Linked DNA regions of Homo sapiens. The protein of the gene in region 1 purifies or fractionates together with the protein of each later gene. This does not show direct contact. Each region holds a gene or a part of one and is shown in the gene's direction. Other genes may lie near its edges.

Region 1 (2,913 bases):
GAAGAGGAGCTGACCACCACACTAAAGGTAAACGGCTGAAAATGGCCATTTAATGCTGATAATCTAAGTATTTAAAGCAAAATAGCTAGAAGATGAGAGAGGAAATGTGGGATTTTTAATAAATGCTAAGATGAGTTTAGTCTCCTGAGTCATTTCAGAAGTACAAAAGCAGTACATCTAATTAAAGAGCTCTGTGGTTGCTTCTAGGTACTGTGCATGCCTGCTGAGGAGTTCAGAGAGCTTAAAGACCAGGATGGAGGGGGAGATGATAAAAGGGAAGAGGGCAGCCTGACGATCACAAATATTCCCAAGCTCAAAGCATCGTGGAGACAGCTGCTTCAAAACAGTGTTCTACTGACTTTGCAGACCTATGCCACAGACTTAAAAACTGACCAAGGTTTACTCAGTAATAAGGAAGTCTATGCGAAACTCAGCTGGAGGGAACAGCAAGCCTTACAGGTTCGCTATGGTCAGAAGATGATCTTACATCAGTTGTTGGAGCTGACAAGTTAGCAGTTTCCCTGTTCCCTGAAGGAACAGCAATAAGAACTTTATTCTAAGCTAATACTCATTGATGTTTGAAAAAGAGGAAAATTTGGATCTTTCTTTTGCTTACTAAACACCAAGAGGAAAAGTAGCAAAGTTGGTGTGCTAGGATTAACTCAGGTAAGGGTGATGTGTTTTAGGATTGAGAACAGCAGACTTGGGAATCACTGCTAATTGTTACTTAAAGCATGTTACAGATGTTTTGTTCTCAGTTTTAACCAAAGCCAGTGGACATACGGTAGTAATAAGTAAGTCTTGTTGTGTTTCAGCATTTAATAATAGACTTTGGAGGTAGACCCCTGGTTTAAATCTAAGTCTAGTTTGAGGAAGTCACTTAACCTTTATTGAAAAGACTCTGGATTTAATAAGCTGTGTAACTGGTACTCGATAGTTACCCAAAGTTCAGTCTAGATGGCACAAACCACCTCTCAGGGAATAAACCCTAAGACATCACTCAAGGAGGACTTCAATTATTTAATTTTGAACTGTTTTGTCCTCTCTGGCCATAAAACTTGACAGTCATGAAAGGTAAGGCAAATTTTAAGTGGGTTAAGTTTTTAAATACGTATCTACTCATTTTCTTTAAAAAAAAAAAAAAAATACCTGGGGGAAAAGGATATTAAAACTGGGTATTTTAAACTCAGCTTAACCAGATAAACCTGCTCCAGCATTTGTCCAGTGTTGAAATAAATAGGAAGAAAAATACAATTTCCTTAAACATGCCAGCTTAGTAGTAGGAATGACCTATCAATCAATCAATCAATCATTCAGCAAGAAGTTAGTTGGTGGTTCCCCATGGCCCCAAGGTCTGCAGGGCTGGATTGTCCACTTTTCCTCCTCACCACCAGCACTGGCTGCTGCTACTGAGAAAGGCACAGTGGACTCATGTGTGTGTCATGACTTTAATGGTTAGCTACAGTATGCATACACATACAAGAAGTAGGGGAGCTGAAGCCCAGGAAAAGGCTACAAAATACAACACAGGGACCAATACATTTGCAAAACATTCAAAATCCTTATAAAAGGGGCTGTATTGGTCCTTTCAACTTTGTCATTATTCAGCTTAGCCTGTATGGCCATTCATTCAGTGGGGTAATGGGGGAGAACAATTAATTAATGAGATTTGGTTCCCTTTCCTATATTCCCACTGTTTTTAAGTTTCAGGAGAGGATTGGGGGGGTGAGGGTAGGGGTGGGCTTTAGGCCTGGTCTGGTTTCCCTTTATATAAAGAGCTGACCCCCATCTCAGGCGGCTGAGGTGTATAATCCCCAAAAGAAATAAGATGGTACAAATGCAGTCAGCTTTGGAATACGTTTGGGTAGAGACAAAATGGAAACTCATGGGATTCCAATAGTGAGCCCTTCCCATGTTCCTGGACATATCCAATTCTAGCACATCCACATTTTTAATAACTTAGTGATTTTCAAGGTCCCCTGTCCACATTAAAAAAATAAGTTACATAATATTCAAACTGGCTTTTTGCTATTCTTTGGGACACCAGGAATGTCAGAAGACATGGAGCTATGCCCTCAGACAAGTGCATGGCATCAGCTGCCTCTTCATTACAAGGTACCAGTTTATGTACTTGCCTTGGACACAGCTTGCACAAAGCCAAGAAGTTCCAGACAAAGGTTTTCTCTTTCATGTATTTACACAAGTTCAAAATGATATTCACAGCATCTTCTAAATTTTGGCCAAGAGTCAAAAAAATGCATTTAAACTTTGGAACGTGCCCACATAAGACAGGAGGCTGATCCCAACAGTAGTTGGGGCAGATACCCACAAACCAAAGGGCTGGGAAAGTCAGGAAGAGCTGAAAGGATTCTTCAGTCAGTTTATGAACTCGGTGCAGTGAGACCTCTAGACTGACACGTACAACAGAGATGCAGTTTCGTCTAACTGGCACCTGTCCCTTCCATTACTTGCTGGGCCTGCTTCTGTCCCATGCAGCACTGTGCGACCGACTGGAATAACCTGAAGGATGAAGACAGTTACAAATCTCTGATTAAAGAGTAGGCCTAACAATACCTTGCATCTCATTCAGCTGACCCAACCTAGAGACAGATGGTTTTCAGTCTCCAGTCTCATTCCTAGACAATTAAAAATTACTTTGAACTCACTTTTCGATTTCTGGGGCACAGTGTACAAATTCATGGTTCCAGAACTTAAACGCTGGGTTTTTAATCAGCTCAATGAAGGTAATAAGAAGACCCCAAGGATGTGGCCTATTTACAATCAACCGTTCCAAGAGAACTCTGGAAAAAGGGAGAAAGAGCTAGTTAATGTATAGAAGCATACAAATTCATGATTATTCTTCCATTACTTTTTTTCTAACTTCTCCCTGACTATTGAACCACATGCAAAAGT
Region 2 (4,120 bases), on another chromosome or scaffold:
GAGGAGACCCGTCATACCTTTCATTTGTAGTAACATAAATGAACTGTATTTCCCACCCCCTACGTTTGTTAGCTGAGGAAGATACAGACCAAAGCAAAATAAAGCTGGTAGTTCCTAAAGGACAGAAGCCAATGATACTGAAATTCCTGTCTTCATCCATGTGATTGGTGCTTGGCACAAATGAAATGTATTCCAATTCATTCAAGTTTAGACGCCTGTCCCGATAACTGTTTTTTTGTTTGTTTGTTTGTTTGTTTTTTGAGACAGAGTCCTGCTCTGTGGCCCAGGCTGGAGTGCAGTGGCGTGATCTCGGCTCACTGCAACCTCTGCCTCCCAGGTTCAAGCGATTCTCCTGCCTCAGCCTCCAGAGTAGCTGGGACTACAGACAGGCACCACCACACCTGGCTAATTTTGTATTTTTAGTAGAGACGGGGTTTCACCGTGGTGGTCAGGCTGGTCTCGAACTCCTGACGTCAAGTGATCTGCCCGCCTCGGCCTCCCCAAGTGCTGGGGTTACAGGCGCGCCCGACCCCGATACTTTTAAATAACGACACGTTGTGAACAACACCACAGTCCCTACGCCTCTGGATGGTGTCTCCGGATAGATCCAAAGCCGAGAGGCAGTAAGAGCCTGCAGCCTCCACAGTCCGCCTCCTGGTGCAGGTGGAGAGGGGCTGCTGGAGGCCCCCGGACCTCACGCTTCCTGAGGGCCACCCCGGAGCGGCTGCAGCCGCTGGCGGCACCGGGAAAAGCATCTCGGCCGTGCGGGGAGAGGCCACATCCTGAGGCCTCCCACCGAGAAGCACCAGGGCTTGGTGGACGGGGCCCGCGAACCCAGGGCCACACGCCGCCTCCCTCCTTCCTTCCCCGCGGGCCTCGCCCCACCCCGGAGGGGGTTCCTACCTGGCTTCCTCGGCCCCGCGCCCACCCCGCCCCTTCGCCCGGGGCCGGCGAGAAGAGCAGGTCGGGGAGGGGCGCGTCCGCTGACGGAACAGAAGCCGGGAGCCGCGGCCCTTCCCGCCTCCGCCTGGGCCCCGCGGCCGCTCGGGAGGGAGCGGCGGACTCGGAACGCGCGCGCGCCGCGGCCCCGGCCACAGCCGCCGCCTCGGTCCCCGCCTCCGCCCCCGCCCACCCGCCCGCCGGGGACGCCGGGGAACCCTCCGGGCCCAGGGACCGCGAGAGACCCCGCCCCGCCCTATCGCAGCCGCCGGGCCTGGTCACGCGCAGAGCCGCGCCGCGGGATCGGGGCCAGCGCCGGGCGGAGGCGGGACGGGGACGGGGGCGGAGGGTTGAAATCGCGCGGCCGGGCCGGGGCGCGCCGAGCCGAACCCAGCCACGCGGCGCCAGCGAGGCGGCCGGACCCGCAGCCCCGATGCTGCTGACGCTGGCCGGGGGCGCGCTCTTCTTCCCGGGGCTCTTCGCGCTCTGCACCTGGGCGCTGCGCCGCTCCCAGCCCGGATGGAGCCGCACCGACTGCGTGATGATCAGCACCAGGTACCGGCGCCGCCGAGACGCCCCCCGAGGCCCGGGGCGCTGCCCACCGCACCCCACCCGGCCGCGGGGCCCAGGGCGGAAAAGGGGGGCGGCAGGAAGCCCGGGGGCTGCTCCCTCCGCGTCCCGGCGGCCCGAGTTTCCGAAGCCCCTCCGCGTCCTCCCCTGGCGGGAGCGGGGCCGGGGCGGGCGGGAATGGCCGATGAGCCTCCGGAGCCCGCTCCCCACATCTGCCTGCGGCTGGGGAGAGTCAGGCCGAAGGGCCGGGCCGGGCTCCCTGCGGTCCTCGGACCGGACTGAGCGCGCGCGCTGTTCTCTCCGCCCGCGCTAGGCTGGTTTCCTCGGTGCACGCCGTGCTGGCCACCGGCTCGGGGATCGTCATCATTCGCTCCTGCGACGACGTGATCACCGGCAGGTAAGAGCCCGGGCCGGGGCCTTGTTGCAAATGTCACATTTCAGTAGCTCGCAGGCTCTGGCTCTCGCAGCACACGCGCTCAGAAAGCTGACTAATGGGAAAAGCTGGCACCACAATGGGCTCCTTCTTCCTCTCCGGAGTCTTCGGGCACCCCCAGCTTAGGAGAAAGTCCACGGAAATGAGGGAGGACGACAGAGTCGGAGTCTGATTTCAGGTGGTGTGAGCCAGGGATCCAGGTCCTTCATGGAAGAGATAAGCGTGGAAGCATTTACGACTGGGAGTGTGGCTTGATTCTTGCAGTTGGCTTCACTGGGTTCTCACTCTGGAGCATCACTGGCTAACAGACGTCCAGTGTGGTTAGCAGAGCCCCCTCCATGGAAAGGAACCAACCCACCACCCCCTTCCACGCAAACGCCGCTCTTGCTTTTCCTGCAGATTTGCTAAAGGTGATTGAGAGGTTCCCAGCGCTTAGAACACGGACTTGTACGTCTATCAGAGGTCAGTCCAGAGGCAGGTCAGGAAATGTGCACCTATCTGCAGTTCCAGTGAAACAAATCATAAATTAAGACCAGAATAGTCGACTTTGTACAGTAGTTAGACCTGGACAATGGTGGTGCTTTTATTATTTCAAGCCTTTTTTTTCCCCACCGGTCTTGCTGGAATCACACTCACTTTCTCCCAAGTTGAAGGACCACAGTCGGATGTGCAGGAAGTTGAACGGCCTTTCCAGGCCCTGCTCTCCTGTGGGCTCTGCCAAGTCCTGCTTCTCACCTGCTGAGACTGAACTGCGAGGGGCCTGAGCAAGCTGTCCGTCTCACTCTAGCCTGCGGTCTTACCTGGGATCAATCCTGCTGTCATGATTTTTGTGCTTTTCTTCTGCCTTTTTAAAAACAAAACTGGCTATTGGCGATGAATAAGTAGATGCTACGATAGATCAAGTGACATCGATTGTAGACACCAAAGGTTAATATTGGTGTGGCTGGGTACAATTTTTCTTCTTCTTCTTCTTCTTTTTTTTTTAAAGACAGGGTCTCACTATGTTGCCCAGGCTGGTCTTGAACTCCTGGGCTCAAGTCATTTTTCTGCCTCACCCTCACAAAGTGCTGGGATTACAGGCATGAGCCACCACACCCAGCAAATTTTTTACTTTTTTTTTTTCCTGTCGAGACCTCAGGCTGAGGTGCAGTGGCATAATGACAGCTGACTGTAGTCTTGAACTCCAGGGTTCAAGCCACCCGTCTTCCTTAGCCTCCCAAGCTTGGACTACAGGCACACACTACTACACCTGGCTAACTTTTTTTTGTTGTTGTTGGTAGAGACAGGGGTCTCCCTGCGTTGCCCAGGCTGGTCTTGAACTCCTGGGCTCCAACGATCCTCCTGCCTGGGCCTCCCAAAGTGTTGGGATTATAGGCGTGAGCCACTGCACCCAGCCAAAAAAGGCCTTTCAGGGTTCATATACTATATACTGAATATTTTTCTATTATATGCCTTCTCATTTTATGCCTTCACATAGAATGCGATTAGATAGAAGGAGTTAAAAATCCCCCCAAATTATAGGCAGAAGGTGGTATGGGGCCAAGGATTTAGTCAGATTCTTAAAGGATTCAGACACTAAAATGACAAAGTCACAGCTCCAGGTGGTTTTCTCAATTTAAGTACTTAATTCAGATAGTACGTTGTTGTTTTAGACAGGGTCTGGCTCTGTCACCCACGCTGGTCTGAACTCCTGGGCTCAAGCCATTCTCCCACTCAGGCCTCCCAAAGTGCAGGGATCATAGGTGTGAGCCACCGTGCCCAGCCTGTATAGTACCTTTTAACATTTAAAAGGACTCCCCCTCCCCGCCGCCTTTCTTTTTATTGAGATGGAGTCTCACTCTGTCACTCAGACTGGAGTGCAGTGGTGAGGTCTCGGCTCACTGCAACCTCCACCTCCCAGGTTCAAGTGATTCTCCTGCCTCAGCCTCCTGAGTAGCTGAGGTTACAGGCATGTGTCACCACGTCTGGCTAATTTTTGTATATTTAGTAAAGCCATGTTGGCCAGGCTGGTCTTGAACTCCTGACCTCAGGTGATCCATCCGCCTCGGCCTCCCAAAATGCTGGGATTACAGGCATGAGCCACCGTGCCCGGCCGACTTTCCCACATTTAATTATTTAATCTTCACTGCAGTTTTGACAGGTAAGACAGACAAGGATTATCATCTTCATTTTACAAAG
Region 3 (4,035 bases), on another chromosome or scaffold:
AAAGGCTGCATCTTAGGGAGGTCAGAATACAGCTCCGAGAGCAGGGCGCAGAGGCTCACGCCTGCAATTCCAGCACTTTGGGAGGCCGAGGAGGGCGGATCCGATGAGGTCAGCAGTTCGGACCAGCCTTGACCAATACGTTGGAAACCCCGTCTCTACTAAAAATACAAAAAGTAACCAGGGGTAGTATTGCACGCCTATAATCCCACCTACTAGGGAGGCTGAGGCAGGAGAATTGCTTGAACCCAGGGGGTGGAGGTTGCAGTGAGCAGAGATCTCGCCACTGCACTCCAGCCTGGGCAACAGAACGAGACTCCGTCTCAAAAAAAAAAAAAAAAAAAGCGCGATAGGCGATTACTGGTCAGTGGTCAATATAGGTCAAGGGACGAGACAGGAGAGAGCTTTCTAAGGTTGTGGGCCTTTTTATTTTTTATTTTTTTGAGGCGTAGTCTCGCTGTGTCGCCCAGGCTGGAGTGCAATGGTGCGATCTAGGCTCACTGCAATCTCCGCCTCCTGGGTTCAACCAATTCTCCTGCCTCAGCCTCCCCAGTAGCTGGGATTACAGGCGCCCGCCCTCACGCCTGGCTAATTTTTTGTATTTTTAGTAGAGACGGGGTTTCACCATGTTCGCCTGGCTAGTCTTTTTTTTTTTTAGACGGAGTCTCACTCTGTCACCCAGGCTAGAGTGCAGTGGCGCTATCTCAGCTCACTGCAACCTCTGCCTCCTGGATTCAAGTGATTCTCCTACTTCAGCCTCTCGAGTAGCTGGGACTACAGGTGCCCGCCACCCCGCCCGGCTAATTTCTGTATTTTTAGTAGAGACGGGGTTTCACCATATTGGCCAGGCTGGTCTCGAACTCCTGACTTTGTGATCCGCCCGCCTCAGCCTCCCAAAGGGCTGGGATTATAGGCGTGAGCCACGGCGCCCGGCATCCAGGCTAGTCTTGAACTCCTGACCTCAAGTGATCCGTCCGCCTGGGCCTCCCAAAGTGCTGGGATTACAGGCGTGAGCCACCGCGCCCGGCCAGGTTGTGGGTTTTAATGGGACCATCTCACTGCCTACCGTTTCCTTTTTCCGTCCGAACAGAAGGGGCCTGAGCAGTGAACTGACAGTGGCAACGCCGGGTGAGGCGGGATGGAGGAGTTTACGAGCCTGGGTGACGCCCTGTTCCGCGTCCTGGCCCCGCCCCTCCCGGCAGAGCCCCTTGGCGCGTGACACAGGCCCCGCCCTTGCTGTACGCCATCAGCCGGCGCCGCGCCGCCGGGTGTTACTTTGCCCCGCCGGCGGGGCGGTCAGCCTCCTGTCACCGCCTGTTCCGGCTATGGTCCCGTCCGGTGTTCTGTAAGTTGGCAACCTAGGCTCCTGACGCGACCCTGGTCCTGATGGCGGCGGCGACGGCCGCGGCAGCCCTGGCGGCGGCCGATCCCCCTCCCGCAATGCCGCAGGCGGCAGGGGCCGGAGGGCCCACAACCCGCAGAGACTTCTACTGGCTGCGCTCCTTTCTGGCCGGAGGTGGGTCCATGCCACGAAGAGCCAGCCGCGCTCTGAGTGGCGGGGGCAGGACTGTGGGCAAGTGGGATGCAAGCGGCCTCTATGACATTCCTGGACTCTGGCTGCTTCAATGTTCTGTTAGATGTCTGCCCTGACCTGCTGTAACCTCTTTCTAGTAATCACTTGACTAATGACAGCTAGGTTATGGGGAGTGGGACCTTTGGCACTCCGGCAGAGGCTGGGGAGGTGGAAGGTCTGAATCAGGCACCCATTCTTCAGGGCTGGATAACAGGGAAAAGAGGAGGATCCCTTACAGAGACCCTGGGGTTTTAGTGAGACATGCTGGGCACTCCTTTCTTTTATAAAAACCGTGAGTGACCCAGTGTAGACTTGGATTTTGCTGTTTGCTTAAAGGAAAACAAATATTGGAGATCAGCTTTTTAATGACTACTGGAAAATTGTGCAAACTGTCTACAGCCAAAACTGGTTCCAGTGATTCTAGTAAACTGTGACACAGTACTTGACAAGCCCTATTATTGATGTGACTTTGGGATCAAAAAGTTCATATTGTCTCTTAGGAATTTCCTGGGCCTTCAAGCTCCACCCTTCCTTAATTACTTCTCTGGGTTGTGTAGGGGTGGGTTGCCCCTCCACACCTGTGGGTGTTTCTCGTAAGGTGGAACGAGAGACTTAGGAAAGAAAAAGACACAGAGACAAAGTATAGAGACAGAAATAAGGGGACCCGGGGAACCAGCGTTCAGCATATGGAGGATCCCGCCAGCCTCTGAGTTCCCTTAGTATTTATTGATCATTTGTGGGTGTTTCTCGAAGAGGGGGATGTGTCAGGGTCACAAGACAATTGTGGGGAGAGGGTCAGCAGACAAACACGTGAACAAAGGTCTTTGCGTCATAGACAATGTAAAGGATTAAGTGCTGTGCTCTTAGATATGCATACACATAAACATCTCAATGCTTTACAAAGCAGTATTGCTGCCCGCAGGTCCCACCTCCAGCCCTAAGGCGGTTTTTCCCTATCTCAGTAGATGGAGCATACAATCGCGTTTTATACCGAGACATTCCATTGCCCAGGGACAGGCAGGAGACAGATGCCTTCCTCTTGTCTCAACTGCAAGAGGCATGCCTTCCTCTTATACTAATCCTCCTCAGCACAGACCCTTTACGGGTGTCGGGCTGGGGGACGTTCAGGTCTTTCCCTTCCCACGAGGCCGTATTTCAGACTATCACATGGGGAGAAACCTTGGACAATACCTGGCTTTCCTAGGCAGAGGTCCCTGCGGCCTTCCGCAGTTTTTGTGTCCCTGGGTACTTGAGATTAGGGAGTGGTGATGACTCTTAAGGAGCATGCTGCCTTCAAGCATCTGTTTAACAAAGCACATCTTGCACCGCCCTTAATCCATTCAACTCTGTGACACAGCACATGTTTCAGAGAGCACGGGGTTGGGGGTAAGGTTATAGATTAACAGAATCTCAAGGCAGAAGAATTTTTCTTAGTACAGAACAAAATGGAGTCTCCTATGTCTACTTCTTTCTACACAGACACAGTAACAATCTGATCTCTCTTGCTTTTCCCCACAGGTTGTCATTACTTAATTATTTAAGATTCAAAAATTTAAAAATTCCACATTGAAGTTGTGTGCAGTGGCTCACTACTGTAGTCCCAGTTACTAGGGAAGCTGAGGCAGGAAGACTGCTTGAGTCCAGGAGATCGAGGCTCCAGTAAGCCATGATCACACCACTACCCTCCAGCCTGAGCTACAGAGAGAGACCCTCTCCTAAAAGAAGAAAAAAACAAAAACAAACAATAAAAATTCGCTGGGCAGGGTGGCTCACGCCTGTAATCCCAGCACTTTGGGAGACTAAGGTGGGCAGATCACTTGAAGTCAGGAGTTTGAGACCAGCCTGGCCAACATGGTGAAACCCTGTCTCTACTAAAACTACAAAAATTTGTCAGGCGTGGTGGCACTCGCCTGTAATCCCAGCTACTCAGGAGGCTTAAGGCAGGAGAGTCGCCTAAATCACTGTGGAGGTTGCAGTGAGCCGAGATCCTGCCATTGCACTCCAGTCTGGGTGACAGAGACACTCCATCTCAAAAACAAAATAAAATAAAACAAAAAAAACCTCACATTATGAGGATTTGTAGAAAGATAATATCTGAAGACTGCAGCAGTATTAAGTTTTTTTTGTTGTTGTTGTTGTTTTGAGACAGAGTCTCACTCCCTCACCCAGGCAGGAGTGCAGTGGCGTGATCTTGGCTCACTGCAACCTCTGCTTCCTGGGTTCAAGTGATTCTGCTGACCCAGCTTCCCAAGTAGCTGGGATTACAGGGGAATGCCACCATGCCTGGCTAATTTTTTTTCTTTTTCTTTTTTGAGATGGAGTCTCACTCTGTCGGCCAGGCTGGAGTGCAGCGGCACGATCTCTGCTCACTGCAACCTCCGTATCCGGGTTCAAGTGATTTACCTGCTTCTGCCTCCCAAGTAGCTGGGATTACAGGCGTGCACCACCATGCCCAGTTAATTTTT
Region 4 (4,074 bases), on another chromosome or scaffold:
CCTCCAGGAGGTAGGTACCCACTGGAATTTGGATAAAAGAACCATGTGACCCTAAACCTGGAAACGTGGCACACGGTGTGGCCTTGCCTGCCTGCAGGCCCTAAAGAAGGAAGCTGGGCCCGGCCTAAGGCTGATCTGACTCCTACAGCGAAGAGAAAGCGCCTGGCCCGTCCCTGCTCCCAGGCTCCAACCTGACAGTCTGGACCTCCAGAGGCGCTGGGGAAGGGCTGGTGGGAAGTCACCGAATGGGACGCTCCACAGGGACCAGGGCAGTCCCTTGCCACTGCGAATGTCAGGGACTCCTGGGGGGCCGAGTCAGACTCGGCTCTCATTCATCCCCGCAGCCCATGGATACCCTGGTGACCCAGAGCCAAGCACCCTCCGACTTCAGCGCCTGAGCGCGGCCCCTACCGAGCCCCTCCGGTCTCGCCCCGTCCGGCCGCCGCTGACGGAGGCGCTGCGATCTGGCCCGACTCCACTCTGCAGCCCAGTCCAGGAACCTCCCTCTCTCCACAACCTTCCGCGGCTCCCGCGACCCGCAGTCCTCGGGAAGGAGCTGTGGCCCGAAGGCCTGCTGCGCCCTTTGCCCATGGCCCCTTTCCCTTTTAAGGTTCCCTGCTCTCCGCCCAAATCCCAGCCTCAGGCTCCGCAGGAAGCGCCCGTGCGCGTCCGACCCCCAGAACCCGGCGGGTTCGGCCAGGAGTCCGGAAGCCCCGGAGGCCACCGCCGCCGCGGGCGCGCAGGCGGGACGGGCAGAGGCTCCCCACGGGCGATTCCCGCTCGCGGAGTTTCGCAACTAGCGGCGTCCCAGTCTGCGGGCCTCGGAACGTCCCGGCGCTCCACGGCCGTTTTCGCGGCAGGGTCCGCACGGCACAGACTAGGGCGCTGAGGTTCTGCGGCGGCGCCGGACTCCGAACCCAGGGTCCGGTTCCCGACCCGGTCCAGACCAGAGCCACCCCGCGTACTCCGGGTGGGGGAGTCCTCGGCTCAACCCCGCCACCCCGCGCGTCCCCTCCCGCCGGACCTGCGCACCCAGCGCGCTCTTTGTCTGAGGCGTCCCCGCGCCCCGCCCGCGCGCCCACCACGTCCCCCGCGCCCCGCCTCCCGCGCACGCCCGGCCAATGAGGCGCGGCGGCGAAGCGCAGTGCCCGGGGTGTTGTCCGCGCCGTGCCCGCCCATTGGCCTCACTCGGCGCCCCCACCCGGGCCCTGCCGGCAGGCACGAGGGGCGGGGCGCGCGGCCCGAGGTGAGGGACCGCGGGCCGGAGGGGATCCAGCGAGTCAGCTGCCGCCGAGGGACCAGCGCGGGTCTAGCTGCTGCCGCCATCCCCACCATCCCTGACCGCGCCTGCCCGGGCTCCGCGCCAGGAGGAGCGGCCAGGCCCAGCCCCGGCACCGCGCGCTCGGGGACCCCGACGGCGCCCAGCCCGGCGAGGGGCCTCAGGGGGAGGACGAGGAGGAAAGGCGGCCTCGCCGGGGACCCGGCCATGGCGCTGGACTTCTTGGCTGGATGCGCGGGGGGTAAGGAGGCGGCGGGCCGGGCCGGGCCGGGGCGAGGCGTCCGGGGAGGGAGGTCGGCCCACCAGCACGCCCTGGCCTCGCGGCTTCCCGCTGGCGGGGGTCGCCGCGTCTGTGAATGGGGACCACAGTTCTCTTGCCTCGGGCGGGTCTCGTGGGCGTAAATTGACTTCAGGCCCGGGCTGTCCGCGAGGGCAGGTGTCTTTATTCTCTCTGGGCACGCTCGGACGGGAGGTCTGGGGCGCCGGGGCAGCACCGTGGCTGAGCGGAGGCCAGGACTGCCGGGAGGATGCCCCACTGCCCCCCGCGCCGAGGTCCCGGGCTCATCTCCTTCCCCTCCCCCATCCCCATCCGTTGCGCACTGGGAGCAGGGTCCCCTCCCCCGGCCGTATATTTCGGGACTGACTCCACCCCGTCCCGCGCAGCCATCCAGCGGGGTTGGGGCTACGGAGCCGACCCCCTACTCGGCTGGCCTTGGAGGGCACTGAACCACTCTGGCGCCGAGTCACGCCTTGGAACGCCGCCCCTTCCTACGCGGTTTTGTGAGCTGTTGGGGGCGGAAGGGGGGTGGTGGGTGGGTCGGGCGAGCCGGTGTGGGGCACCTTCTCCGAGGCGCGGTCGCGGCTCTGGGGTTCCTCCCATGCAGTTGTCCCCGGGAGGGCCCGGGCGGGCGTGCAGTCCAGGCTCTCCCATGCCCCGACCGTGGGCGTCGGGCACGGCACTTCCCTGTTGGGCCTCTGGCTTCTCTGCTTTTACCTTGAGGGTTAATTTATTCACCAGGATTTAGATGTCGGGGGCGGGGGAGGGTGGTTGGCGGCGGGAGTTGCTGAGAGGGCCGGCCGCTTATCCCTGTTTGGTCCCACTTTTCTCCCAGCACCTGCCCTTGTTCACCGCCTCTTCATCTACTTGGATTTGGCTCGAATAAACCCTCAGCTCCCGGCCAGCGCTGAGAGCCCTGGCGGAAGAGTGGGTAGCGGTGGCCTTAAGTATTAAATCTGTGGCGTCGGAGCCTGCTTCTTGGGGGAGAGACTCGTTGAAAAGGGAGTGTGTTGGGGAGGTGTTGTGCGCTGAGGGGAGTTAGAACTTCCCGGTCGGTTACCCAGTGGGAAGCTGCGGGGCACAAAGCCCAGAATTTGCTGCTAATCGCTGGGTGCCCTGGAGACAGAGGGGGCGTGTCCTCTGCGGATTCCATTCTCACCTTCCCCTCCCGCTTCTGATCTCGCTGTTTGCTCCACCCTTGCTCCCCACCCACTATCAGCTCCAGCGGGTGGGGGTGAAGGGCTGTCCCCAGGCCAACACCTCCTTCCAGGCTTTGGGGAGTGGGGATTCTTTCCCCGGATGGGCAGAGTTCCTTCTGCAGTGGCGCTACCGTCCGTGCTGCCCTCCTGGAAACACCGGGGTTTGGGGCAGGAACACTTCACCTGAAAGCAGGCCTGCTTGGCGCCTCCCGGCACATCTGTGGTCTCCTCTGCACGTCGCTCGCGCAGCCTCCTTGCCTGGAATGTCCTTCGCTGCCCATCCTCATAGGCCCACCTGGGAGAGATCATATCCATGCCCCCTGCCCCAGGTTTGTGGGTCAAGGACTGGCACTGTCTGGTGCTGTAGCACTGGGGCACAGGCCACCCCCCTGCCCCCAGGCCCTGCTTTTCGTGCAACCCCCAGGCACATAATGGCCACCCAGCTAAGGCTCTACAAGCGTAAGCCTGAGCCTCCCAGGTGGACAAGGACAGAAGTCACCTGGGGGCTCACTCCTGGTCTCATCGGAGAAACCTAGGCCCAGAGAGGTGGGGGTACTAAAGCAAAGTCACACCACATGCTCCTCTGATGGCCAGGGTGAGCCTGCAGTCCTCTCCTCTCCCCCTTACTCCAGGGTGCTGGGGTGGCCCCTCAGGACAGTGAACTGACTGTGTCCCAGGCTCCAGGTCCCTGGCACAGCTGGGGTCACACTGACAGCCTGCCCAGAGGCACCCCACCTTGGGACCCGTACCCCAGCAGCCCCTGCCTGGCTCCTTCTTGGGGTGCCCCCAACCTACAGGCTCAGGGCAGATAATGCCAGTGCTTCTCCTTGGTGGCTGGGGAGGGGGACTGTCCACCCCCTACTATTCGCCTAGTGTGGGTCACGTGTTTTAACTTCTCAGGGAGGCGGGGCCAGCATCTTGACTGACAGCATCCTTGAGGCCTTGCATGGTGGAAGGTTTGGAATGCCTCCCCCTCTCCCCTACTGGGGGATCAACCCAAATCTTGAGGCCACATAGACACTGGGCTCTGGATGGACAGAAGCAGGCGCAGAGAGAAAAGCTCAGCTAGGGGTGGGAGAACCCGGGAGGAGAGGTAACCCCAAGAGGGAAGGGTGCCTCTTCCACTACCTCTGCTACCAGCCATCCCCAGGACAGTGGTTCCTCCCCACCCCGCCCAGCCCTGAGGACTACTGGTTGGGGATTGCCTCCGGAGCCCAGCTTAGGGAGGACAGTAGACAGTAGGCTTTGGAGTTGGGAGACAGGGTTCCGCTTCTGCTGGTGTGACTGGAGGCCTCCTCGTGCGCTCAGAAAGGTGGTGA
Region 5 (3,991 bases), on another chromosome or scaffold:
GCTAGGGCTGTGGCCTCAAACCGAATGGGCTCCTGGGTGAACCTGCTGCGACCTGAGGGGGGTCCCTACAACCTGTGCGAGCCTCAGCTACTGCACCTGTACCTGGGAGGTGCTACTGTCAATCTATCGGTTACGGCAAGGGGCGGTGGAGTGATTCCTCTTGCTGGCCAATTTCACTTCAGTTTGCACCTGGCACAATCAACACTGGCAGAATTAACAAAACTAGACAAATATAGCCTCATGATCATTCATGCCTAGCTCTCGGTCAGTATTCAACTTCTTTCTTGTTCATGGTGTGTTACCCTAGGCAAGTCACTTCCCCTCCCTGGGTCTCCATCATCTCCTCAGTAAACTGGGAGCACAGAATAAAGCGCGTGGGAGGATTAAAGGGGACACTTTGGTCGCCCAACACTTGTTCACTGCATAACGATAATTCCAAGAGCGACATCACAGTAAAGACCCAGGCGCCGATCTAAGCGCGTTTCAGCCTCACGCGACGCCTACGAGGTTGAGCTGCGTCATCGGCCCCATTTCGTAGCGGAGGAAAGCGAGGCACTGGGCGGTCAGGCCGCTTGCCGGAGGTCGCCCAGCGTCCCAGCCGAGGACGCGGAACTCAGGGCCGGTCGGGTGTCAGCGCTCCGGAGCATGCGCAGAGGCAGCACGCCATCGGGGTCTTCAGGGGCCCGCGCAGTTCCTGGCGGGGTCGAACCCGAACTCACCCCGAGGGTCCTAACTCCCCACCTCCGCTGCCCATCCTCTCCAGCCCTATGGCGTCTACAAATCCAGACCTGCGGAAGCCCCAACTCACCCAGCGCCTCGCCCCGAGGAATCCGCCATTTTCCCGCCTTCCACCTCAAGGCCCGACCCGCCGGCTTTTCAAAGCCGGACCCGCCCCCTTGCTTGCGGGTCGGACCATTTGTGGAGACGCAGGAGGGGTGGCTGCGAGGCGTGAGGCAGCGCCGGCTAAGTGTGGAGAGCGCGGCCCCAGACGCGCGCTTCGCCTGTCCTCCCCTCGCACTTGGTCTCGCCCACCATCGGCGGTAGTGGGTAGGGGCGGTGGGTGGGACCTGATCTGTCGGACAGTAGGGGCGGGGCTTTTCGCGATGCCCCGCCCCTAGGAGCGCTGGCGTCACGCCCCCGTCCCCGCCTCTCCGGAACCCGGAAGCGGGAGCGCGCGGGGGAGCGGCGGGCGCGGCGGGGCGGAGCGGCTCGAGCAGCGGCGGGCTGGCAGGCGGTCGTCCGGCCGGGGACCCGGCCCGGGACCGGCGGCGCGCGGCGGCCGAGGCCAGGTGAGTACCAGGCAGCCTCGGGTTGGCGACTCGAGCTCGAAGCCTGCCTTTGGGGGCTGCGCAGAAGAGGGACGGAGCTGAGGGCTGATGGGGGACGCGACGGCAGGGGTCGAGGGGGCGGGAACGAGCCTGGGGGTCTTGGAGAGATTGCTGGGGATGAGGTGGAAGCGAGACGGTGAAGGAGAAAGTGGATGGGGATGGAGCTGGTGAGGGAGTTCGAGGGCGTGGGGGGGGTGAGTCTTGTGGCTTTGAGCAGCTTCTCTGAAGAGGACGTGGCTTAAGTGGTAATTGGGGGGTCGCAGGAAACGGCGTTGTGGGGAGGCACGGAGGCGGGAACGAGAGGCCCAGGCTGGGGGAGTGGGCAAGGCCAGGGGCGGGACAGCCGGGGTGCGGTTGAGGGGAAGGGGTGCGAGACCGATCTGGGGACGTCTGCCCGCGCGATTGAAGGAAGGGTGTCTGAGAAGAGGGCGGCGCCTGGCCCCCAGTGGGCGCTCAGTAAATGCGGGGGGTTCTGAACTAACTGATGCGGCAGCCGGCTATTGGGAAGCGGGGAAATGGGAGCTGGAAGGGAAGTAAACGGAGTAGAAGTCACGGTAAGAACTGAGGGTAGGCTTAGGGAGGGAGGGCCCGGAGAGGAGGGAAGAGAAGGAAGGGGTTAGAGTGGCCCCGTGCAGATAGATGTTGAGATGCAGCCCCTGGAGATTCCGTCCCCCCACCCTCCCCTCTTGATTCGTGTCCCTCCTGACTTCACACTTAACAGCTGGGTGACCTGGGACGAGTCCCAACACCCTCTGTGCCAGTGTCCTCGTCTTGGAAACTTCACCACCCTCCCCTTAAGACAGGACTAGCAGGATTCTGGGATTCCCTGGATCCAAGGAAGGGACCTCAGGGCCGGTTGTGGGGCCGGAACTGTGTTTCAGGAGGGAGTGTGCATGCACCCTCATGTACAGGACTGTCGCCACCTCCGCAGAGCTGCATCCTTGGACTTAAATGGGTAAAACGACATACAGGAAATCTGTCCCCCGGTTGCTCTGAGCTCAGCCCTGGAGAGGCACGACAGCCACGAGCCCTCCTTTCTTTCCTGGGCACCCTGGAGGCCAGGGGTCTTTAAGGGATGGCTTCTCTGCCTCTTTGTCTGAGGTGGGAGCCCGTGGGGACACTTTCCAGCCAGAGAGTCCCAACTCGGTTTGTTTTTTGATGTTGGAGTCTTCAGAATCTTAAGGTGTCCAGGAGCAGCCGGAGGTGACCTGGGCTACAGGAAAGTTATTCACATCTGACAGGCCTGGCTCTTGTGGCCCTGGCAGGGACTTTGTGCAGGGTGCTTTTGATTGGCATTCATTTCTCCCCTTTCCCAACTGTAGGGATCTTTATCTGGGATCTGCCAGAAGGGCTGGGGAACCCCAGCTTATGTTTAGTTTATAGCTCATTCAGGAGATGAACCCGGATAGCTGGAATATAAAGAGGGCCACAGAAAGATAAGCACCCCCTTCACTTCCAGAATATCCTGGCCTTTAGGAAAGGTGGCTTTGGCCTGGCTTGCCCCAGGACATGCAGTGACAGCCCACAGTCATGCCTCCTGCAAACATTGAACTGTAGGCTTGCACTGGCCTACAGAACAGGACCGGGATCTTCTGATCCCGCAGCCCTGCAATCGCCTCTTCCCTGCCGCTAGAGAATGGCCAAGCAGGGTCTTGTGGGGGGAGCACTGTGTTGGAGATCCTGGCTTTGGTCAAGTCTCTGTGCCTGTTTCTGACCTCTCACCTGCAAAATGAATGAATTGACCTCCATCAGCGTTTTTCAACCTTGAAACCCAACTCTTCTCATCACCGTCTTGTCTCCAGTCCATGTCCCCCAGCTCCCGGCCTTGAACTCCTCACAGCACCCCCACTCTCCATTCCTGGCTGCGATGATCCTACTTTTATTCCGTTTTCCATTCGACAGTTTGTATCCAAAAATGATTTTTTTTCAACCGCTTCTTCATCGTCCAAATAGAAAATTGCGGTGTTGAAGGTGCTTTTGCACATTGCACCTATTCCCAAAGCTTTGGAAACTGCAAATTTCTGGAAATCCCGAGGCAGTACCGTCCCTCGGGTCCAGTCTGGTGACTCAGTGGAGCAGGTAGAGACGTGGGAATCTCCCCTTTCTGTTTGGCTGTAGGATTCGTTATTCTCTCCCCACATGGACTTGTTAACTTGCTGCTTCCCATTCCTCATCTCTTCCAAATGGTGTGTCTTGGGTGGGCCTAGATTTCAGTTAGGCAAGGGTTGATTGTGCCAGACACTTGGTAGATTCCTGGGGACAGAGGTGAATCCTTATGACCCAGAGGACGGACACGCTAATGCCCGCCCCCGACAACTTTGCACTTCCTCTTCAGAAAGAATGGAGTTCAAGCTGGGCCGCGGTGGCTCAGGCCTGTAATCCCTTTGGGAGGCCAAGGTGGGTGGATCACAAGGTCAGGAGTTCAAGACCAGCCTGACCAATATGGAGAAACCCTGTCTCCACTAAAAATACAAAAATTAGCCCGGCGTGGTGATGTGCGCCTGTAGTCCCAGCTACTCTGGAGGCTGAGACAGGAGAATTGCTTGAACCCAGGAGGCGGAGTTTGCAGCCAGCCAAGATTGCGCCATTGCACTCCAGTCTGGGTGACAGAGCAAGATGCCCTCAAAAATAATAATAATTAAAAAAAAGAATGGAATTCAGAT
Region 6 (4,206 bases), on another chromosome or scaffold:
CATCTCCCTCTGCCTCAGTTTTCTCATCCCTAAAATGGGGATGATCATAATGGTACCCACTTCATAGACCTGTACTGCGGATTATACAGACTAAAGCACTTTGGAATGGCTAGCTGCTCTCACCCTTCCTGTTACAGTATTGAGTTCCAACGTCTCCCTGTAGAATGCTGGCACTTCGTGGGCAGGCCCTGGTTTTGTTCCTCTCTGCACATAACCCCAGGATGTGCTGGTTGCACAATAAATGGTCCCTTACATTTGTTACTAGGAGCAACCCCCACCCCAGCTTTGGCCCACTCCCCCTCCTTCCAGCCTGTGCCCTCCTCATGGCCCCAGAGCTGGGGAGGAGAGATGCATCTCTCAGGATAATCTCCAGCAGCCAGGTGCTCCCCACCTCCACCCAGGTCAGCAATAAACACCAGAGTCCTTGGGTTGGGGGGCAGGGTGGCTCAGGAGCTCTCTAAGGGCCAGAGGTTTTGCCTTGGCCCTGACAACCCCACCCCCACCCCTCCAAGCCTGAGTCTCTTCAAACTCTGCTCCTCCTGGCCTAGCCAGGCCTCCTGGAGAGGGACGGCGAGATGATAAGCGCTGGGGCTGAGAACGGGGCATCCAGACCTTGGAGTTCGGTCCTAGCTGCCCTGGCCAAGGTTTTGTTTGTCTAGTCCCAAGAGGCAGGCCCTTGGAGTCCAGGGAAGAGAGAAGGAACCACCTGGGCAGACAGACCCAAGCCAAGGGGCCAGGTGTCGCCAGCGTCCCCAATCTCCAGTCTGGCTCTGGCCCGCATGGCAGCTGGAAGGGCCAGAGCTGGGTGGGTTCTGTCAATGCTTCTACGGGGTGTGTAGGGGGTTGGCAGGAGTCACAAATGTTGGCCTTAGCTGCAGGGCAAATGCAGATAGGACCTCCACGGAGTGCCTGTTCCCAACCCAAGGGCACAGCAGAGCTAGGAGAGAGGCCTCAGGGTCCAGGAGGGAGAGGAGGTGTTCAGGCCCAGCTTCCCGGAGAGAGTGTGACTACAGACTAAAAGGGTCAAGGGAACAGGCCCACTTGGCCTGAGGATGAGGGCGCTGGAAGAAGGGGATGGGAGATTGGGTGCTTTTTCTTGATGGGGAGGGGCGACTTGAAGACGGCAATCAAGACCTAGATGACGTGTTTGGTCTGGGGTGGAGTGAGGACGCCAAGAGGGAAAGGACGGCGCCCTGAAGAGACCAGCTCAGGCGAAAACAGGGCTCTGCCCAGGCGGGGACCCAGCTGGGTGGAGGGCGGAGGCAGGAACCCAGGAAGCCGACTGAGCAAAGACTGCGTCCAGGCCCCGCCCCCATGAGCCCGGCCACGCCCCCTGGAGCCCAGCCCCGCCTCCCGGCCGCCCGCGCGCAGGTAGGGAAGAGGCGGAGCGCCGCCGCCCCGCCCCCGAGGAGCCACCGCCCAGCCGCTCGCAGGCGCCGCACGGAGTTGCGTCCCGGGGACTTGGGGCCGCAGGGAGGTGAGCGCGGGGCGACGAGCGGGGCAGGACTCACGGCCGCCCAGCCGCAGGCGCCGGAAGGGTCCCGAGGTTGTGCCCGAGCCTGCCCTGGAGCGGTGGTGCGCGGCCAGGAAGGGTGCCCAGTGCCCGGTGCCCGCCCTGCGGAGCGCCTGGGTCCCACGTGGGCTCGGCTGGAGGCCCGGGCTGGCTCAGACGGCGCCGGCGGGGCCGCTGGACCCGGTCTGCTGGCCCCTAGGGCTCGGCTCGGACAGGACGCCTAAGGGGTCCCTGGGCGACGGGGCGCCAGATGTAGGGGCAAGACGATTGGGCAGAGATTTAAACCTCCGGAGGAAGAGAGGAGACTGCGCAGGGCAGTCCCGCCTGCGTCCCAGAAGTGCCTGCAGTTCAGACCCTTCTCTCCCCTCCACTTTCTCCCGGGTGAGCACCGGGCGGACCGGGGCCGAAGTTTGTTGGTTGAGCCAGCCAAGGTGGAAACAGGTGCGGGGGTGGGGATGAGGGACTCACACAGCAGGGCTGGACCGGAGCTCAGAAATTGGACCCAGGAGTCCTGACTTCTGGATGGAGGGGCTGGGGAAGGTTGGCCCTGGGCTTGCCTTTTACCTGTTTGGCCCCTCGGATGTTCCCCCAGGGCATTGGGATAGAGACGGATAAGTTCCCTAGGGTACAGACCCCGCCCCACTCCCACGCCAGGGCGCAAAGGAAGCCTAGGTTTTGGCCCTGCCCCATTCCATGAAAGATTAACGGAGGGGGCTCTAGGGTTGGAGCTACTGAGAGGGTGGCAGCGGGTGTGTCTGAGGAGCAGAAGGCGGTGGGGAGCTGACCCCACTTGGGGAGAGGCTGCTGTTGCCTGGGCGGCTGGCATCAGGCCCCCAGTGTGTGCCATTTGCTGGTAATATAATGAGACCAGCATCTGCCTTATTCGACCCTCACTGTCCGTAGGGCAGGCAGTGGAAAGGGAGGCGTGTTTTAGAGCTGTGGTTCTCAACCAGGGGCGACTTTGCCTGCCATGGGATATTTGGCAATGTTGGAGTCATTTTGGGTGTCACACACTTGGGAGGGGAAGTGAGTGTTGTTGTTACTGGCAGGTAGTGGGTAGAGGCCAGGGACGCTACCAGACATCTTCAGGGCACGGAACAGCCCACATAACGAGGAATTATCCAGCCCAAGGTGTTGGGCTGTGCTGAGGCTGAGAAACCCTGCGCAGCAGCTGGTCCATCAGGTTCCTTCTCAATGATGCTCCCTCACTGGGGAAACTACCTCAGTTTTCCAGAGTGGTTAGGGGAGGAACTTGGAATAAACCTGAATGAGATGAGGGGTAAGGCAGTGTGAGGGCACTTATTCCCCTCACAAGAGTCTTCCTTTGGTGCCATGAGACACCGCCTTTCCCAATCTCCACTGGCCCTGCAGGAAGCTGGTCTAGGTGCTGTGGGGGAGAGGTTGGGAACAGAGGACCCCCTTGCAGCCCAGGCCTGGGGTGCTTAACCCCAGGGCAATCTCCCAGGAAGGCTGGGCTGAGGCAGCCCTTGAGCTCAAATATCCCTGGGCTGGGAGGGTGGGCAGAGGGCGAGCTCTCTTCCCATAGATTTTCCCAAAGCTGGATTGCTGAAGCTGGCATGGTTGCCTGATACCATGTGACCTGCTGGAATTTTCCCTTCTGAACTCACACCTAACTCCTCCAATTATGTACACCTTTTGAAAGTGACATCCAAGGAGTATCAGGGCTCCTAATTCCTGGGGGGTCCCCAGGCTGCTTTTGTCCTGCAATAAAGAGGGCACCCTGGGTTAGCTGACGAGCCCTGGAGTGGGCCCAGCTGCTGATGGGGTGGAGGCACCCCTGCCCATGGTGTTAGCTGAGCAGAGGTGAGAGATGGGAGACATCAAAGCACAGGCCAGGTGGCCCCCCAGTAGGGATGACTCAGAGTTGTTTGTATTGGGCTGGAGGAATGTACTTCCAGTTTTCTGGCAACAAGGAGGGGTGGCTGGCACGGTGGGAGAGGATCGGATGAAGCAGCCACGTCCATGCCCAGGAGCTGGGGCCACCTCGCTGCCCTCCCTCCCTGTTTTCTTGCAGTAGCCATTATACCCATCCTGTTCACTTCTGGACCCAGCCTTCTTGCCTGGGAACCCTGGTGGAGGTTTCGAGCTTGGGTTCTTTTTGTTGGTGTTGGTGGCTTTTGTTTTTTTTGTTTTGTTTTGTTTTTGTTTTTGTTTTTTTGGTCTCTTGACTGTAAAAGGCTGAAGTGAAACTCCCACCTTTTCATTTGCACAAAAAACAAAAGTGGCCTCCATTGCTGTGAGCCTCTCAAGGGACAGGGCTGAGCACCCAGGCTTGTACAAAGTTGTTCAGGAAGTCGGCAGTGGAGCTCGGGTGTGAACCCAGTTGCCCACCCTCAGGCCCCACCCAAGAGCCCCACGAACAAACCCTCAGTGACTCCTACCTGTCTGTACCTGGTGTAACCACACACACACACAGACACACACAAACAGACACACAGAGACACACACAAACACACAGACACACACAGACTCACACACACACACACACACACACACACACACACACTCTCTTTCTCTCCAGCCCAGGAGGGGGACTTTTGTTCCTATAAGAGGAGGAATAAATCACACTACAAATGCTTTGGGTGACGCACTTGGGGCCCGAGTCCTGCTCTGGGGTCAGTGGTGCTGTTTTTCCTGTGGCCTCAGCTCTGGATACTGTGGTGGCCTCTCCA
Region 7 (3,500 bases), on another chromosome or scaffold:
TAGTGTTGTTATTTTAAAGTGAATATTTTTAAATTTCTCATTGTTAGTTTCTTTCTTTCTTTTTCTTCTTTTTTTTTTTTCGAGATGGAGTCTCGCTCTGTTGCCCAGGCTGGAGTGCCGTGGTGCCATCTCAGCTCACTGCAAGCTCCGCCTCCCAGGTTCACGCCACTCTCCTGCCTCAGCCTCCCGAGTAGCTGGGACTACAGGCGCCCGCCACCATGCCCGGCTAATTTTTTGTATTTTTAGTAGATACCAGGTCTCACCATGTTAGCCAGGATGGTCTCGATCTCCTGACCTCGTGATCCGCCTGCCCCAGCCTTCCAAAGTGCTGGGATTACAGGCGTGAGCCACCGCACCCAACCACGCCCGGCTAATTTTTTGTATTTTTAGTAGAGACGGGGTTTTACCATGTTAGCCAGGATGGTCTCGATCTCCTGACCTCATGATCCACCCGCCTCGGCCTCCCAAAGTGCGGCGATTACAGGCGTGAGCCACCACGCCTGGTCCTCAGTGTTATTTTCTAATCTGGTAAATGTTGACAGATTTAACTCAAAAACAAAGGCTCTTGGGGATGTGCAATAATTTGAGGGACTTGCAATAATTTTCAAGAGTGTAAAGGAGTCCTGAGACCAAAGGGTTTGAGAACCGGTGGTCCCACTTACAGGGGCCTTGTCTTGAGACACAGCAGGAAAGAGGGGTGTTAACTGGTGGTGTCAGCTCTGTCTCCAGTGGGTGATTTTTGCCTCTCTGAGCCTCAGTTGTCTTACCTGCAAAACGGAGTGAGAAATGGTACTTCCTACCTTGTTGGTGCTCAAGAAAGTGTTCACACAACACGAATCCCCATCCTAACAGAATCCTGGCCAGGAGCCCAAGTTATTTCCTGTAATCTACGTTTGAAACGAATGCGAGGAAGCAAAGTGTGCTAAGTGATGCGGTTTCAAAAGCTCCTCTTAAACCCCAGCATTTGTCTTCATGAATATTGCTTTAAAGTCGGCCTGACTGGTTTTCTCCCTCTGCTCCGTGCATGGCCCAGAGCTGATCAAGGAAGTGCTGTCTCTGGAGGAGAAGATCCACGACTTGGCCCTGGAGCTCTACACGCAGAGATCGCTGCTGGTGATGGGGCGGGGCTACAACTATGCCACCTGCCTGGAAGGAGCCCTGGTGAGCCCCCACCCCCAGCCCCCACCCCCACGGAGGACAGGCACAGGAGACCCTGAGGAGCCAGCGGGAAGGAGGGCAGGGCGTTGGGCTTGGGGAGGGCCGGGCCTAAGGACCCCTTGGCCAGTCCTGTGAGCCTGCGCTGAGCACCAGCTCTCCACCAGGTTTCTAGCCCTGGGCACACAGAGATGGGTGAGGCAGGTGCCTGCCCCCAGGGATCTCCCAATCTACTGAGGAGAAAGGGACAGGGCGCCTGGGGTGTGCCCCTCCGGCTGTCCAGGCACTGCCAGGGTCCACTTGGAACAGCTCACTCAGACCTCATGAGCTGCTTCTGAGAGGTTGGCGGTTGCTATTCACCCTCATTCAGGAGGAAACAAAGCCTCTGAAAGCTTAAGTATCTCACTCAAGATGACGTAGGGGACCCGAATCAGACCTGAGTCCATGGGGCCTTCGCTTTTTTCCACCAAAATTGAGGGGTGGGTTCTCCGCAGAGTTTCCTTGTTACCCCTCAAACTTCCAAGGGGAGTTTGAGATCCTGCAGGAATTAACTTCGAAGGCCTTGCTTTTTCAAAAATTGGTGACAGGCCATTTGCCCCCTGCAGCATTAAAGATCCACGCCAGGAAAGAGAAAGCTGATGGGGCAGGGACAGGGTGCCAGGGCCACAGGGCTGCCCAGAGGGTGGGCAGAGAGCCGTGCAGGGTCCTGCATCTCGGACTTGCCCTTTCCTCGCTGTCAGCATGCCATGCACGGAGCAGATGCTCAGCCCAGGTGACGGGGACAGTGCTCCAGCTGAGGCTGCACTGGCCACCAAGACGAGGGCATTAACCGTGGCCCAGCTGGGCTGCCATCCTCTCCCATCTCCTCCCCACCACCCCCATTTGAAAGACAATGCTAGGCTGGCACAGTGGTCCACGCCTGTAATCCCAGCACTTTGGGAGGCCAAGGCAGTCAGATCATTTGAGGTCAGGAGTTCGAGACCAGCCTGGACAACATGGTAAAAGCCCATCTCTACCAAAAATTCAAAAACTAGCTGGGCGTGGTGGTGCACGCCTGTAATCCCAGCTACATGGGAGGCTGAGGCAGGAGAATCGCTTGAATCCAAGAGGAGGAGGTTGCAGTGAGCCAAGATCATGCCACTGCACTCCAGCCTGGGAGACAGAACGAGACTCCCATCTCAACGAAAAAAAAAAAAAAGAAAGAAAGAAAAAAAAAAGAAAGACAATGCCAGTTACAAGTGGTTACCGGAAACATTCAGAGTTGATTTCCTTGGTCTTGGTGGGGAGTGCAGGGCTGTCCTCACTGAGCTCCATCTCCTGCACCTGCCCCCTGGAGATTCTGACTCCTGTTAAAGAACAGGCAGGTGCTGCTTCTTGGAGTGCAGTAGAGGCAAGGCCTGGGGTGCACTGTCAGTCCCCAGATGACTCTGCGTCATGGGTGGGGGCTGAGCTGCGGTGGCTGAACGTGCTGGCGGGAGATGCACATTGCAGCTATGCCTCCGCATGAGTCTGCTGAAGGAAGAAGCGTTTAGGTGGCTGCTGGCACGAGCCCATGGTCCTCTGGTCACTGGGAGGCCGGCACTGCAGCTGTCTGCGCCTCCAGACTGGAGCCGCACTCCTTACAGTGTGGCCCTGACCTAAATCAGCAGTGCTAGCGGGGAGTCGAGAGATGATTTATTTGACTGTCTCACCATTTCAATGACGTGGATTTGTGGTAACTGAATAGAGATGGATCTACCTGAACACAGGAAAAAAATTAATTCAAATAACACCCCAGTTTGTGTGATTTTGCTTGGAACCACTCTTTAGAAGTTATTAATGGGCAAATGCTTAATCAGATAATTAACTGAAGGTGTAGCTAAGCTGAATACGATGCTGTCGTTATACACGTGGCTGGCTAGGGAGGAGCAGGGGGTGAGCTAGGCTGACTCCGACTTGTTTGTCCTAAGGGGTGGCTGTGCGTGGGACTGGAGAGAGACAACAGCAGTGCCCGGGGCTGGTGTGGGGACACAGAGGTTGTGTCCCGGGCTGGTGCATGCTCTGGATGGTAGCCAGGCCTCTCCCCAGGCCCTTGCTGGGTGTCCTCAGTGCTGTCAAGCACTCCAGGCATCTGTCTGCCTTGCAACCCTTGGCTCTCTGCCTTCCAGAGTCATCCTTCCCCTGGTTCCCCTTCTTCCCCTCTGGCTGATCTGCTCCAGCCCCATCTGCCCAGTGTGACTCTGATCTCACCTCCTGTTTCCAGAAAATTAAAGAGATAACCTACATGCACTCAGAAGGCATCCTGGCTGGGGAGCTGAAGCACGGGCCCCTGGCACTGATTGACAAGCAGATGCCCGTCATCATGG

Evidence for each region.
Region 2: the proteins of SETD6 (region 1) and TLCD3A purify together in Homo sapiens (co-immunoprecipitation; one large-scale study listed by IntAct). This does not show direct contact.
Region 3: the proteins of SETD6 (region 1) and SLC25A16 purify together in Homo sapiens (co-immunoprecipitation; one large-scale study listed by IntAct). This does not show direct contact.
Region 4: the proteins of SETD6 (region 1) and SLC25A29 purify together in Homo sapiens (co-immunoprecipitation; one large-scale study listed by IntAct). This does not show direct contact.
Region 5: the proteins of SETD6 (region 1) and MYO9B purify together in Homo sapiens (co-immunoprecipitation; one large-scale study listed by IntAct). This does not show direct contact.
Region 6: the proteins of SETD6 (region 1) and RHBDF2 purify together in Homo sapiens (co-immunoprecipitation; one large-scale study listed by IntAct). This does not show direct contact.
Region 7: the proteins of SETD6 (region 1) and GFPT2 purify together in Homo sapiens (co-immunoprecipitation; one large-scale study listed by IntAct). This does not show direct contact.

Annotation. Positions count from the first base shown.
Region 1 is NC_000016.10:58,518,517-58,521,429, forward strand, and holds part of SETD6 (N-lysine methyltransferase SETD6), read left to right. Parts: coding exon 1-27; intron 28-207; coding exon 208-513; 3' UTR 514-2,441; coding exon of another isoform or gene 2,442-2,520; 3' UTR 2,521-2,666; coding exon of another isoform or gene 2,667-2,801; 3' UTR 2,802-2,913. Other genes in the region: CNOT1 (CCR4-NOT transcription complex subunit 1), read right to left, coding at 2,442-2,520, 2,667-2,801. UniProt on the Homo sapiens protein: Protein-lysine N-methyltransferase. Monomethylates 'Lys-310' of the RELA subunit of NF-kappa-B complex, leading to down-regulation of NF-kappa-B transcription factor activity. Monomethylates 'Lys-8' of H2AZ (H2AZK8me1).
Region 2 is NC_000017.11:731,276-735,395, forward strand, and holds the start of TLCD3A (TLC domain-containing protein 3A), read left to right. Parts: upstream 1-1,320; 5' UTR 1,321-1,372; coding exon 1,373-1,494; intron 1,495-1,822; coding exon 1,823-1,906; intron 1,907-4,120.
Region 3 is NC_000010.11:68,524,724-68,528,758, reverse strand, and holds the start of SLC25A16 (solute carrier family 25 member 16), read left to right. Parts: upstream 1-1,235; 5' UTR 1,236-1,383; coding exon 1,384-1,513; intron 1,514-4,035. UniProt on the Homo sapiens protein: May be involved in the transport of coenzyme A in the mitochondrial matrix. Very little is known about the physiological function of this carrier.
Region 4 is NC_000014.9:100,303,645-100,307,718, reverse strand, and holds the start of SLC25A29 (mitochondrial basic amino acids transporter), read left to right. Parts: upstream 1-1,274; 5' UTR 1,275-1,486; coding exon 1,487-1,520; intron 1,521-1,942; coding exon of another isoform or gene 1,943-2,059; intron 2,060-2,110; exon of another isoform or gene 2,111-3,068; coding exon of another isoform or gene 3,069-3,084; exon of another isoform or gene 3,085-3,701; coding exon of another isoform or gene 3,702-3,711; intron 3,712-4,074. UniProt on the Homo sapiens protein: Mitochondrial transporter of arginine, lysine, homoarginine, methylarginine and, to a much lesser extent, ornithine and histidine. Does not transport carnitine nor acylcarnitines. Functions by both counter-exchange and uniport mechanisms.
Region 5 is NC_000019.10:17,074,586-17,078,576, forward strand, and holds the start of MYO9B (unconventional myosin-IXb), read left to right. Parts: upstream 1-1,191; 5' UTR 1,192-1,289; intron 1,290-3,991. Other genes in the region: HAUS8 (HAUS augmin-like complex subunit 8), read right to left, coding at 809-837. UniProt on the Homo sapiens protein: Myosins are actin-based motor molecules with ATPase activity. Unconventional myosins serve in intracellular movements. Binds actin with high affinity both in the absence and presence of ATP and its mechanochemical activity is inhibited by calcium ions.
Region 6 is NC_000017.11:76,498,624-76,502,829, reverse strand, and holds the start of RHBDF2 (inactive rhomboid protein 2), read left to right. Parts: upstream 1-1,406; 5' UTR 1,407-1,477; exon of another isoform or gene 1,478-1,954; intron 1,955-4,206. UniProt on the Homo sapiens protein: Regulates ADAM17 protease, a sheddase of the epidermal growth factor (EGF) receptor ligands and TNF, thereby plays a role in sleep, cell survival, proliferation, migration and inflammation. Does not exhibit any protease activity on its own.
Region 7 is NC_000005.10:180,304,837-180,308,336, reverse strand, and holds part of GFPT2 (glutamine--fructose-6-phosphate aminotransferase [isomerizing] 2), read left to right. Parts: intron 1-1,033; coding exon 1,034-1,161; intron 1,162-3,397; coding exon 3,398-3,500. UniProt on the Homo sapiens protein: Controls the flux of glucose into the hexosamine pathway. Most likely involved in regulating the availability of precursors for N- and O-linked glycosylation of proteins.